Linked DNA regions of Homo sapiens: region 1 is reported to be linked to region 2. Evidence: microRNA targets listed by miRTarBase, many of them from high-throughput screens and not tested one by one. Region 2 holds a microRNA gene; the other region holds the end of a gene's coding sequence.
The links. Region 2 holds the annotated microRNA hsa-miR-8060 (CCAUGAAGCAGUGGGUAGGAGGAC, at 1,462-1,485, opposite strand). A microRNA usually pairs through its seed, bases 2 to 8, with sites in the 3' UTR of a target mRNA and lowers its output. Matches are read on the target gene's strand: a 7mer-m8 pairs with bases 2 to 8, a 7mer-A1 pairs with bases 2 to 7 and ends in A, and an 8mer does both.

Region 1: miRTarBase lists TM9SF1 as a target of hsa-miR-8060. Seed matches in the 3' UTR shown: 7mer-m8 at 542-548.

What each region holds. Positions count from the first base shown.
Region 1 is chr14:24,185,919-24,189,918 of GRCh38, reverse strand. It overlaps TM9SF1 (transmembrane 9 superfamily member 1), which reads left to right. Exons shown (of 6, transcript NM_006405.7): 6 at 111-770. The coding sequence ends at 504. It overlaps IPO4 (importin 4), which reads left to right and starts at 1,103. Exons shown (of 30, transcript NM_024658.4): 1 at 1,103-1,200; 2 at 1,281-1,367; 3 at 1,496-1,575; 4 at 1,662-1,703; 5 at 2,123-2,252; 6 at 2,340-2,519; 7 at 2,769-2,834; 8 at 2,940-3,041; 9 at 3,128-3,211; 10 at 3,468-3,632; 11 at 3,737-3,790; 12 at 3,949-4,000. The coding sequence starts at 1,132. RefSeq lists silencers at 1,532-1,651, 1,897-2,107.
Region 2 is chr3:96,357,341-96,361,490 of GRCh38, reverse strand. It overlaps MIR8060 (microRNA 8060), which reads right to left and starts at 1,527; the gene lies at 1,452-1,527.

The sequences.
Region 1 (4,000 bases), not on the chromosome of region 2:
TTCACAATGACCCAGCAACATGGGAGAGGGTGGGGGCTGGATTTCAGCCCAGCCACTGTGCTGATGGTGCACAGCCCTTTAATGCTGTGTATCATCTCTTTTCTTCACAGTGCCATCTCTGTGGAGCTGTACTACATCTTTGCCACAGTATGGGGTCGGGAGCAGTACACTTTGTACGGCATCCTCTTCTTTGTCTTCGCCATCCTGCTGAGTGTGGGGGCTTGCATCTCCATTGCACTCACCTACTTCCAGTTGTCTGGGGAGGATTACCGCTGGTGGTGGCGATCTGTGCTGAGTGTTGGCTCCACCGGCCTCTTCATCTTCCTCTACTCAGTTTTCTATTATGCCCGGCGCTCCAACATGTCTGGGGCAGTACAGACAGTAGAGTTCTTCGGCTACTCCTTACTCACTGGTTATGTCTTCTTCCTCATGCTGGGCACCATCTCCTTTTTTTCTTCCCTAAAGTTCATCCGGTATATCTATGTTAACCTCAAGATGGACTGAGTTCTGTATGGCAGAACTATTGCTGTTCTCTCCCTTTCTTCATGCCCTGTTGAACTCTCCTACCAGCTTCTCTTCTGATTGACTGAATTGTGTGATGGCATTGTTGCCTTCCCTTTTGCCCTTTGGGCATTCCTTCCCCAGAGAGGGCCTGGAAATTATAAATCTCTATCACATAAGGATTATATATTTGAACTTTTTAAGTTGCCTTTAGTTTTGGTCCTGATTTTTCTTTTTACAATTACCAAAATAAAATTTATTAAGAAAAAGGCTCATGCAGTTGGAGGTTTTGGTCTGGATATAGGAACTCGAGCCCTGCTGTTAAGGGCACGGTCCTTTATAAAGCCGAGCTGGCCACTGAATGCCCGAAGCTCGAGTTCTCCAACCCAGCTTGGGAACTCCCGGCGTGGGGAACCTACATTGCCAGAGTCGGGTTTCCGCGATTCAGCCGGTGCTCAGCCTAACGGAAGTGGAGGAGCCGGACCTCTTTGTGGGAAGCGAATTGAATCACCTTGGCAACCCGCGGGGCGTGCAGCAACGCCCTTTCCTCCGGAAGTGGGTGTCAGAACCTCCACGTGCTGTCCCTCCCCCTCCCCTTTTCGGCCCAGTAGCGGCGGCTCAGTTGCTGCCATGGAGTCAGCCGGGCTAGAGCAGCTCCTACGGGAGCTGCTGCTACCGGACACCGAGCGCATCCGTCGGGTACGGAGCAGGCGTAACCGGGCCAGGGCGAGCGGGAGGTTGCGGGAAAGGCCCAACTCTCACCCCTAGCTTCCCCCCAGGCCACGGAACAGCTCCAGATCGTTCTTCGGGCCCCCGCCGCTTTGCCGGCTCTCTGCGACCTGCTAGCCTCGGCGGCCGACCCCCAGGTGAGACCCCTGACTCTCCCCTCCGAGCTTCCCACTGTACGCCACCGGTCAAGCCCCAGTATTCGCCCACTGCGGTCCGCTCAGCACCTTCCTGCCCGGACCCCCACGTGCTTGCTTCCTCGTCCTAGATCCGCCAGTTTGCGGCCGTGCTGACCCGCAGACGACTGAACACCCGCTGGCGACGGCTGGCGGCGGAGCAACGGGAGAGGTGGGCTGGGCCTGGGGTGGGGCGGGGCCAGGCGGAGACTTTTCTTGGGCAGGCTGGGTACCAAACACCTGCCACCTGTGTTCCAGCCTCAAGTCCCTGATCCTGACGGCCCTGCAGAGAGAAACAGAGTAAGTACCTACCCACTTCTCTCGGGATCTTGACGACTTTGTCTAGGTTTCTGCCTTCCTTTTCGGCTCCAGGCTGGGACTTGTGGGGCAGGGACTTCAGTTCTAGACGCAAGGTGGAGTGAGGATTTTAAGGCTGTTTTGAAGACTAAAGTTCTTGAGGAAGGGTGATGATGATCTGCCAAACCCAAGTCAGAAGAATAAGACTGAAATTCAGGCTAAGTTAGACTGAACTTACCAGATTACATGCCCACAGTGCTGTTGGGCTCCCTCTGAGCTGCTGTCTCATGTGTCCCAACTTGGCAAAGACCCTGTGCCCACACCTCCTGAAAGTTTCTGTCCTGGCTGCCCCATTGAGCCTGGCCACTGTGTGCAGAGGAAGGTATTGAAGGGTGATTGGAGGAGATCTCTCCTGTTTGCAGGCACTGTGTGAGCCTCAGCCTGGCCCAGCTCTCAGCCACCATTTTTCGAAAGGAAGGCTTGGAGGCCTGGCCACAGCTTTTGCAGCTGCTTCAGCACAGTACCCACAGCCCCCACAGCCCAGAGAGAGAGGTACCATCACATGGTTGGCAGGAGGGAGGGCCTGAGAGGCTGGATAGACCTTGTAAGCTTGCTCTCCCATCCTCTATTCTTGGACAGATGGGGCTTTTGCTGCTAAGTGTGGTGGTGACCTCCCGGCCCGAGGCCTTCCAACCCCACCACCGGGAGCTTCTTCGGCTTCTGAATGAGACTCTTGGTGAGGTGGGCTCTCCTGGGCTGCTCTTCTACTCCCTGCGCACTCTGACCACCATGGCTCCCTACCTCAGCACTGAAGATGTGGTGAGATGTGGGCCCTCGTTATCTTTGACTCCCTTTCCTCATGCCTTCATGTCCTCACCCGTAAAAGTTACAAAGCTGCTTTGGATTCTTTACCTGCCTGTGGCCCTTCCTGACAATTGAGAGGGGATGCTGTAGGTGGGCCTGGCTGTTATGCCTGGGCTCCTCCTCGCAATTCAGGCTGTGAGGAAGCTGCCAGCTGCTGGGGTGTGAGATTGGGCTGCATCATGCTCTCTGTGATGTGTCCCTCAGCCTCTCGCTCGGATGTTGGTGCCCAAGCTGATCATGGCCATGCAGACTCTGATCCCCATAGATGAGGTGAGGACAGGTGGGCAGGAGCTCTGTTGGAAGGAGAGTGCAGAAGTGTCCAGTTTGGCCCACTGAAGAAGAGCATGGTAACCTTGTGCCTTGTTTGTCTGTCAGGCAAAGGCCTGTGAGGCCCTTGAGGCTTTGGATGAACTGTTGGAGTCAGAGGTGCCGGTCATCACCCCCTACCTCTCTGAAGTCCTCACATTCTGCCTGGAGGTGAGCCTGGAGTGGACATGGCCCCTGCTACATGCTCTGCTGGGACTCTCCTTCCCTGTCGCTGATTTTTATTATTCTGTGGACAGGTAGCTAGAAATGTGGCCCTGGGCAATGCGATACGCATACGTATTCTCTGCTGCCTCACTTTCTTGGTCAAAGTCAAGAGCAAGGTAAGTGAGTGCCCATTGACACACATCACCCCACCCCCATCTCCACCCTTAGTCTCACTCCTGGGGCTTTCGGTCCATCTCAGGGTATCTAAAGTACTGTGGGGGTTCAAGCCTTGGCCTGGCCTCACCCCAGCTCCTGCCTGGGAGGTTGGGAATTTTCTGTCAGACCCCTTATGGCCTGGAAGACTGGAATTTTTAATGTGAGCCCATCCTGGGAGCAGATTCTTAGGGACACTGTTCCACCTTCTCTGTCAAGGCCTTACTGAAGAATCGTCTCCTGCCACCCTTGCTGCACACCCTTTTCCCCATTGTGGCTGCTGAGCCCCCACCAGGCCAGTTGGATCCCGAGGACCAGGATTCAGAAGAGGAAGAGTTGGAGATTGAGCTGATGGGGGAGACTCCCAAGCATTTCGCTGTACAAGTGAGATGTGGGGCAGGACAGAGGGGGAAGGTGTTAGGTGGCTGTGGGACGTTGGGGAGGCAGAGATGGAGTCAAGCAAAGTAAGTCTCCCCATCCCATCTCAGGTTGTGGACATGCTGGCACTACACCTGCCCCCCGAGAAGCTCTGTCCCCAGCTGGTAAGTGTGGCTCTGTCCTTCTGGTGTCCCTACCTCCAAGTGTGCCTAGTCCCCCTGAGGCCAACGACGTTTAGACCCTGGGAGGTGTGAAGGCCTATTACCACAGGAATGGGCAGGCTCTTGCTGGGGTTTCAGAAGCGTGCCACATGCTTCCCTAGATGCCCATGTTGGAAGAGGCTTTGCGGAGCGAGAGCCCATACCAGCGCAAAG
Region 2 (4,150 bases):
CATACATATAGGATGAAATCATAGTAATAGCCATGTGCCCTTTTGATGCAATCACACAGCTACATGTGGACACCTCTATATGTGATTGGACAAAAAGGCTGCATGGTTGTCAGTCACACCTATTTAAGCCTCCATAAAACCCCCAAAGGACAGGGTTTGAAGAACTTCTGGAGAGCTGAACAAGTGGAGGTTCCTGGAGGATGACTTGCCAAAGGAGGTTTAGGGAACCTAGGTGCCCCTTCCCTCATACTTTGTCCTGTGCATCTTTTCACCTGTATCTTTTGTAATATCTTTTAAAATAAACTGGTAAACAAAAGTAAGAGTTTTTCTGGGTTCTTTGAACTGCTTCAGAAAATTAATGAAAGCCAAAGATGGAGTCATGGAAACTTTGACTTGAAGACGGTTGGTCAGAAGTTCTGGAGTCTAGGACTCGTAATAGATCTCTAGTGGGGGGCATACATCAGGACTGAACTCTCAATCTGAGGGATCTGATCCTATCTCTAGCTAGTGTTGGAACTGAATTGTAGAACACCCAGTTAATGTCCGCTGCAGAATTTATTGCTTGCTTGGTGGTGAGGAGAACCCCACCCACCTACATTTTATAACAGCAGTCTTCTGTGTTGATGATTGCTGTGGTCTGAAAGCAGACCAAAAACCAAAAGATTAAAAAAAAAAAGTCAACTTAGTTAAATTAGTAGTGAAATGTTCTAGGCATAAGCTTTGCTGCATAGCTCCAATACAGTATTAGCCACAGAACAAATTGTGTGCATAATTTGAAATGTGCATGTAAAGGGCAGCCATATTTTTGTATACTGGGAATGTTGGAACAGGGTGCTGTGAAGCTTCTACTGCTTGTGCACATTGTCACTGATCTGCTGGCTTATTGGTTGTTGTGAAAAAGCAGCTCACCTTAGAGTTCTTCCAGTTCTCACTGATTATACTCCTTCAGCTTTTCTAAGTCCTTGGCCAGAGCATGCAACACTGCAGCATTAGTAGCCAGGCTCTCAATTTCTCCGTGTTTTGTTGCATCCCTTCCTTGAGTTTCTTTGGATCCTGGTTCAAGTCTGTGCTTATCTCTGTGAGGAAAGCTTCTCCTGAAGTTCATCTGCAACATAGGGATGAAGGCAAGGAGGCAATGAGAGGCTGACCCAATTTTCGGCTCCTCCTTGAAGGTTCCATTTCTCTTTGCTCCCCCTGCCTCACTTTACGTTCACCATTCCTTCACAACCATTGGCTTTGCCAACCTCAAGCCCAGTAGCTGAGGAAGAAGCAATGATTGTATATAATCTGCGCACCTAGCCCCAACATTTTTTTAAGGTAACATCTCCATAGTTAATTTATTTTGTATTATTTATCATTATTCCATTTCAGTAATCAAATTCTCACGGGTAAACTATGAATTTCGAATATGAGGTTACCTAGTCACACATGTATTTCTAGTGGCCGTATGAGCTTTTTCCTGTCCTCCTACCCACTGCTTCATGGGATATCTGACCAGAATAGTAAGTGGGAAAAACAGGATTTAAACCTATGCTATATTGATTTATATGCACTTATGCTTTTATTTTTACTTTTATTTTACTTTTTCAAACTTTTATTTTAGATTCAGGGGTACCATACAGGTTTGTTTTATAGGTAAACTGTGTCACAGGGGTTTGTTGTACACATTATTTCATTACCAGGTACGAAGCCTAGTACTCAATAGTTATTTTCTCTGTTCCTCTCCTTGCTCCCACCTTCCACCCTCTGGCAGGTCTCTGTTGTTCCTCTCTTTGTGTTCATGCTCATTATTTAGCTCCTACTTGTAAATAAGAAATGTGATATTTGGTTTTCTGTTCCTGCATTAATTTGCTCAGGATAATGGCCTCTAGCTCCATCCATGTTCCTGCAAAGGACATGATCTCATTCTTTTTATGGCTACATAGTATTCCATGGTATATATGTACAACATTTTATTTATCCAGTCTACCATTGATAGGCATTTAGGTTGATTCCATGTCATTGCTATTCTGAACAGTGCTGCAATGAACATACACGTATGTGTGTGTCTTTATACAGAACAATTTATATTACTTTGGGCATATATACAGTAACAAGTTTGCTGTCAATTCTTAGTCCCTTTTTTGGCTCTTTGACGAATTGCCTTACTGCTTTCCACAATGACTGAACTAATTTGCACTCCTTCCAAAAATGTATGAGCATTCCCTTTTCTCCACAATCTTGCCAGCATCTGTTATTTTTTGACTTTTGGGTAATAGCCATTTTGACTAGTGTGGGATGGTATCTCACAGTTTTTATTTGCATTTCTCTAATGATCAGTGATATTGAGAACTTTTTCACAGGCTTGGTTGGCTGCATTTGTGTCTTTGGAAAATGTCTGTTCATGTCTCTCGCCCACTTTTTAATGGGGTTGTTTGCTTTTTTTCTTGTAAATTTCTTTAAATTCCTTACAGATGTTGGATATTAGACCTTTGTCAAATGCGTAGTTTGCAGTTATTTCTCTCATTCTGTAGGTTTTCTGTTTATTCTGTTGATAGTTGCTTTTGATGTGCAGAAGCTCTTTAGTTTAATTAGGGCCCATCTGTCAATCTTTGTTTTTATTGCAATTGCTTTTAGCATCATCATCCTAATATTTTTGTTGGAGCTTTTGTCAAGAATGATATTTCCTAGGTTATCTTCCAATGTTTTTATAATTTTAGGATTTACATTTAAGTCTTTAATCCTTCTTAAGTTGATTTTTGCTTATAGTGTGAGGAAGGGATCCAGTTTCAATCTTCTGCATATGGCTAGCCAGTTCTCCCAGCACCATTTATTGAATAGGGAATTCTTGCCTTATTGCTTGTTTTTTATCAGGTTTGTTGAAGATCAGGTAGTCTAGGTTTTGAGGGAAACTACCTCAAAATAATAAGAGCTATCTTTGACAAATCCAACATCATACTAAATGGACAAAAGCTGGAAGCATTCCGCTTGAACATGGGCACAAGACAAGGATGTCCTCCCACCTCATTCCTATTCAACATAGTATTGGAAGTTCTGGACACAACAGTTAGGCAAGAGAAAGAAATAAAGGGGTATCTAAATAAGATAAGAGGAAGTCAAAGTATCCCTGTTTGCAGACAACAGAATTCTATATCTAGGAAACTCTATAGTATTGGTCCAAAAGCTTCTTCAACTGATAAACAACTTCATCAAATTTCAGGATACAAAATCAACATATAAAAATCACTAGCATTACTATACACCAACAACAGTCAAGCCAAAAGCCAAATCTGGAATGCAATTCCATTCACAAATGCCACAAAAATAATCAAATCTACAATGAGAATTACAAAACACTGCTCAAAGAAATCAGAGATGACACAAACAAATGGAAAAACATTCCATGCTCATGGGTTGGAATAATCAATATTGTTGAAATGGCCATACTGCCCAAAGCAATTTATAGATTTAATGCTATTCCTATCAAATTACCAATAATGTTCTTTACAGAGCTAGTAAAAAACTATTTTAAAATTTGTATGGAACAAAAAAAGACCTGGAATAGTGAAGGCAATCCTAAGCAAAAAGAATAAAGCTAGAGGCATCATGCTACCTGACTTCAAGAGGGCTACAGTAACCAAAACGGGATGGTATTGGTACAAAAACACACACATAGACCAATGGAACATAATAGAGAGCCCAGAAGTCAGGCCACACACATACAACCATCTGATCTATGACAAAGCTGTCAAAAACAAGCAATGGCGAAAGGACTCCCTGTTGAATGAATGTGCTGGGATAACTGGCTAGCCATGTGCAGAAGATTGAAACTGGACCCCTTCCTTACACCCTACACAAAAATCAACTTAAGATGGATTAAAGACTTAAATGTAAATCCTAAAATTATAAAAACACCGGAATATAACCTAGAAAATACCATTCTGAACAAAAGCTCTGACAAAAATCTTAGGTGTTCATTATAATCTGTGATGATTATTTTTATTTCTGTGCAGTCAGAAATACCCTCTTTGTCATTTCTGATTTTGTTTATTTGTTTTTTTTCTCTTTTCTTCTTTATTAGTCTAACTAGCAGTCTATTTCATTAATTTAAAAAAAAACAGCTCCTGGCTTCATTGATCTTTTGAATGGTTTTTCATGTCTCAGTCTCCTT